2 separate regions of the Homo sapiens genome follow, and region 1 is linked to region 2. The links come from fine-mapping of genetic effects on gene expression. A gene starts in region 2. The other region holds a variant in brackets. All regions are shown on one strand. Distances are from middle to middle.

Region 1 (2,925 bases), 60 kb before region 2:
ATTGTTCTAAGGGCCATAGGCACTATTATCATCACTATTTTTACATATAAAGAAATTAAGATGAAAAAATACTCAACATCACTAATCATTAGACAAGTGCAAATCAAAACCACAATGAGATACCATTTCACACCAGCCCGAATGGCTATTACTAAAAAGCCAAAAATTAACATGCTGGTGAGGTTGTAAAGAAAAGGGAATACTTAAATGCTGCTGGTGGGAATCTAAATTAGTTCAGCCATTGTAGAAAGCAGTTTGGCGATTTCTCAAAGAACTTAAAACAGAAGTACCCATCAACCCAGAAATCCCATTATTGGGCATATACCTGAAGAAATGTAAATTGTTTTACCATAAAGACACGTGCATGTGTATGCTTATTGCAGTACTACTCACAACAGCAAAGACATGGAATCAACCTAAATGTCCATCAATGGTAGATTGGATAAAAATGTGGTACGTATACAACATGGAGTACTATGCAGCCATAAAAAAGATCATGTCCTTTGCAGCAACATGAATGGAGCTGGAGGCCATTATTCTAAGCAGACTAACACAAGAACATAAGGAAACCAAATACTGCATGTTCTCACTTATAAGTGGGAGCTAAACTTTGAGTACATATGGTCATAAAGAAGGGAACAACAGACACTGGGGCCTATTTCAGGGTGCAGGGTGGGAGGACAGTGAGGACTGGAAAACTACCTACCAGGTACTATGCTTACTTCCTGGGAGACAAAATAATCTGTACACCAAAACCTAGTGACATGCAATTTACCTATATAACAAACATGCACATATACTTCTGAACCGAAAATAAAAGTTAAGAAAAGAAACAACAACAAAAAAGAAATTAAGGCAGGAGGGAGGATAAGTAACTTGCCCAAGGTCACAGAGCCAGTAAGGGGCAAAGCTGGGATTCAGCTCCAATTAGTTGGGCTCTAAAATCTAAACTTCTAGCTCTTACACATATGCTAGTAATTTTCATTCTGATTGATTGTGTCTCACAGAAATAAATATATTTTGCATTGTGACCTTGGAGACATATGTAGTTTTATAAAATATATTTATCCTCACAACGTATGATACCGTCTGGTAGTTTCCATTCTAGAATATTCTAATTCTAAAATTAGACTTCATTTAAAAAATACTGGTTACCAGTCGTTGATTTCACAATTGACGAACGAGTCATGTCCCACAGTTTAAAAAGCACTGTATTATGCTTATTTCCACCTGTATCAATATGCTAAATGCTATATATGCAAAATGTTATAGTTTCCACCAAGATAATTTTGGCAGCAATACAGTTTCTATG[T/G]TGTTTTCTATTCTTGGAATTTTCTTCCTCTAAATCTTGAGAAGTCCTCATCTTTATCTAAAAAGCTTTAAACACCTTGCATAAAAATTTCCTTGTTCACTTAACTGCTGTGTCAGGGTTTTATCTCATCCCTCAGTTTGCTCATCAATTTTCTGAAGTCACTTTTGTACTTCTTGATTGCATTATTTATCTTTGTGCTTTATTGTTCTTTGTAGTTTTGTGGATTGTAGATTATTGATCGCAGTTAAAGACACAGTATATACTTAAAACTGTTTATGTATTTTTCTATTCACATACATGTGCTTAAATATTACCTAACAATTAATACAAAAGCTGAGAACCTTGCTATTTTTGCAAAAATAATGTAGCTTGCACTGGTATCTCTGGCCAAATTCCTAGTTTCATATGAAAATTCTAGATAGGATAGTTTCACTACCAAACTCAAAATAAAGCTACTAATCTTCAATAAAGCATTATATTTAAAAAAATCTGTAGTATTCTTAATCATAAACACATGAAAAAATACCGGAGACATTCTCAAAATTATAGTTTTGGAAAAAATCTTAGGAGCCACTACCTCATGGGGGCATCCTCTTCCTTTGCTGGATAGCTCAAATCCTTCCTTATGCTGAGCTGAAAACCTCTCTGCAATTTTTACCCTTTCATTTCAGTTCTGTTTACTCCTTCTTCTTTGTCATAAGCCTTCAAATATTTGTACATAGCTATCATATCTCTTAGGCTTGTGTTTCTTTAACTGACTTTTAGACTGAACCTCTCCTCTCATAGCCCCGGGGAATCCCAGTTTGTTTATAATTCCTTAAAATATATATTATAAAATGACACAGAGTATAGCAGTACTTCTAAAGATCTGCTTGTTACTGCCTAAAATTATTGTCCAAAATTATAGTGACCTTGTAACAGCTATGGTAAACCTTTTTTGCTTTGTGTGTGTGTGTGTGTTTAACAAAGAAGAGTTATCAAAACAGGTATCTGCCTTCTTAGAAGTGTAAAACTGATTTAAAAAAGACTAAATACATACCAGCAACCATAAAGGAACTGACCACATTGAGAAAAACTTTTAGTCATTAGAAAGAGTAAAAATACCAATCACAAATTGGCAGAAAATAATTATAACACATATAATCTATATTGGATCTGTATATACAATATGTAAAAAACTTCCATCAATAAGAAATTTAAAAAAATAGAAAAATAGGCAATGACAAGAGCAGACATTTCACAGGAGAATGCAAATGATGCATAAACATATAAAATGTTCAACTAATTAGTAATGAGGACAATATAAGTTATCATAATTAGAAACTTTTCAAGGAATACATTTGCATTTTTATTATATTCAGTTTCCAGACAAATAGGGCTAAAGTTTTTCTATGCCTTTTTATTAAAACCTAATTTATTGCTTTTTAAAAAAAATTTTAAGTTTTAGGATACATGTACAGGATGTGTAGGTTTGTTACACAGATAGATGTGTGCCATGGTGGTTTGCTGCACCTATCAACCCATCACCTAGGTATTAAGCCCCGGATGCATTAGCTATTTGTCCTGATGCTCTCCCCTCCCCACTCCAAGACTCTAGTGTGTGTTATTCCCCT
Region 2 (2,925 bases):
CAGGCACTCAATACAAATTGTTGACTTGCTGCTAAAATTGTAACAGAGTACAAAGAACATCCTAGAAATTGGAGACAAAGGGGATAAGAAAACAGAGTTAACTTGGAAAGAGAAGACACTCATCTCTGACAAGACTGAAGATGATTACACAACACCATCATTGCCAACCAAGTCCTTTGGGAATACAAAGGTTAAATCCTAATCATCACAACAGTCTCTAAAGGAATAAACCTGATTTACAGATTTTGATAACAAAATACTTCTCCTCTTTCCATTTTCTACAATGCAACCAACAGCAACATCAAAGGTAGGCTTAACCAACTCTTCGAGAAAAGTCAGAGTTAATCCAGATTGTAAAGCGTCCAGGTCCCCTGTTTCTCATTTCCTCTTTTCTGTCGCTCTGACAACAGACTGGGCAGAGATGGAAAACAAAACAACTTACCAAACTGTGTAGCCTTTAGCAGCTCTGGTAAATGCATTTAGGGCTGTGTTAGGATAACTGTTAAAACGGACTCTTTAGGATAGCAAAACATTTTACTTATTTGTGTAATTTCTCTCTCCAAGTAGTACGATAAATCAGGAAGTAGTTAATATGTAAGTAAAGAACATAATGGCATAAAAATATCCCCACAGAATACACAGTTGATGTGTTTTAAAATTCACAAAAATTTTACAAAGTTGAAGAATGGGAGTAGGATAACAGGGTGATGGGGGGAAGCAGCCACAGAATTAGATAAAATGGTATAATTTCAGGTCTAAGGTGAGACACGACAGTTGCTAAAGGAAATATCTGCACTAAGATGACTTGCTAGTTTTGATCACCCTGCGTCAAAGGTAATGGGAATCTAATTGGAAAAAGATGGGCCCCGTTTTCAACATCGCTACCCTGGCAGCCACAGGCTGGGAAGGATACAGGTAAGAGCCAGGTCGGTGATGCCCGCCGCTCTCCCGAGGGCCGAGGGGGGCTCTGTCGAGGTTGTCCGATGATTCAGTGCCCAGTTCCCCGACCGCGCTCCGGGTTCCGGGCCTCCCCGCCAGCATCCTTCACTTCAGCGCCGCCTGTCTGCTCGCCCCCAGAACCTCCCTCATGGCAGCTCCGGCTTCCTCCTCCTCCTGCTCGGCCCCTCCCTACACTCCGTCTCTCAGGCCCCGCGTCACGGGCGCGGAAGGGTTGGCCTCGACAGCCCTAGCTCCCGCGCAGCGGCACTGGTGCCTGTAGCGGCGATGGCAGCTGAGGCAGCGGCGACCTCGCCGGGCAATAGCAGATGGGGCGGCAGCAACCCTGCAGCCGCCATCTTGACAACAACCGACGGCGCGTCCTTGACAACGGAAACCTGGGAGGAGCTACAGGTCGGGGCGGGACGATGTGCCCGAAGCAGCCAATCGCAGGCTCCGGCGGCCCCTCCAGCTTCGAGCGGCGGGTGGCAACCCAAGCATCCCTAGGGACCCGGGTTGTTGCGCGAGGGGTGAGCTGAGTGTTGTTTTAGAGCCTGATGCAGTTCTGCCTCCCTTTTTATGAGAGTGTTTTTGTGGCAGTACCGACAGTGACGAAAGACAGATGTAAAATCCTCAGATACAGGCAATTGCCACCGGGAGGAGTCTGCAGTGATTGTCTGGGGGACAATTTGGAGTTGAATTTGTTAAACTACTGAATCCTGTTGTGAGATTTTGAGTTGTGAGTCTTTCTGTGGCATCATCATCCCCAAACACCGTCTCTTTAAAATGTCTTTGTGAAGTGGAAATTTTCCTTCCCTGCATTCTCTCATCCACTCGGTAATGCTTCTGGCATTCCCTCTGCAGTCGTCTTCCTTGCCTTTGCCCTACTTAGAAGGTCTACATTTCAAAGCCTCCTAATGGTTCTCGCATTGCTGCCAGATTCTGGAAATGGACCATCACAGCAAAACTAGCAATCTCTTGGGAAGATATGCCAAAAGAGATCATCGCATTGAAATGGTTTTGGGAAGTATGGAAAATTAAATGGATTTTTGAGACACTAGTTTATTGGCTATGCAAGTGACAGTTTTGAAAAAGGCTGAATCTTATTGTTGGAGCCTAATGTAAATGCATATATAAATTCTGACTGTATTTCAGTCAGTGTTTTCTTGGAAAAATTCCCAGATTGGAAGCAGAAAGTACAGACCAAATAAAGATTATTCACCCACCATTCAAATGTCTCTGCCTTTGTGAATTAATTTGTTCATTTTAAGATTTCAAATAATAAACTTTTCCAGTTGAAACTGTTTAAAACAATCTTTGCAAACTTGGTTGCAATGACTCAAATTGGAATGTACACTGGCGACAGATTTTAAAGTGCCACAACAAATCCAGTTTCGATTTAAGACACAAAACACATGAACTCTCCTTCAGAAGCATACCAACAGGATAAAATATACAATTCTGACATGAAAAGCTAAATGTATACAACTGGACACTTGGCTATCTTGGCAAGTTTTTAATTGGCCTAGCCACAGGCAATGGCCTTGATTCTATTCCCACTGCTGTCATCACACGTTTGTCTCCCCATGGGTGATCTGAGTAAAGTAGGGCAGTGCAAAGTACAGATGAATATGAGAATATTAGAGTTGCTATTTGGAATATTTAGGCATGGTTAGCTTTCCAGAAGTCCAGCTTTTGCTATATTATTAGTTTGCGATCTCGTAAGTCCTAGGCATCTCACTGCTTTGTGGCTTGGTATATTAGCACTAAGAAGCATAATTTGGTTTCTCAATTGCCTATAAATCCTTTCTTACGTTAACTTAAAAAAACACGTAATTTATGAATCTAGAAAGGAGAGGAAAGGGTTACAGCCTGAAAGGAGGGCCATCCCACAAGCTGGGAGTGTGCCTCCAACTGAAGCCTAAAGAGGCAGGTACTTTGAAGGAGGGATGTTGAGGTAGGAGATTTATGCTGAAAAGTTGGCTAAAC

The links. PIP is the estimated chance that this variant, and not a neighbour inherited with it, causes the effect. A credible set is the group of variants that fine-mapping cannot tell apart.
Region 1: its variant is the best candidate, but not a certain one, in a credible set for the expression of CEP126 in whole blood (TOPMed, PIP 0.69).

What each region holds. Positions count from the first base shown.
Region 1 is chr11:101,973,487-101,976,411 of GRCh38, reverse strand. The region is part of intron 6 of CEP126 (centrosomal protein 126); the gene reads right to left. Among named protein-coding and RNA genes, the nearest start is that of ANGPTL5, 58 kb to the right of the region's middle. The variant T/G (reference allele first, on the strand shown) is at 1,313.
Region 2 is chr11:101,913,401-101,916,325 of GRCh38, reverse strand. CEP126 (centrosomal protein 126) reads right to left here and starts at 1,316. Exons shown (of 11, transcript NM_020802.4): 1 at 914-1,316. The coding sequence starts at 1,041. ANGPTL5 (angiopoietin like 5) reads left to right here. Exons shown (of 9, transcript NM_178127.5): 1 at 1-307. RefSeq lists an enhancer at 1,298-1,397.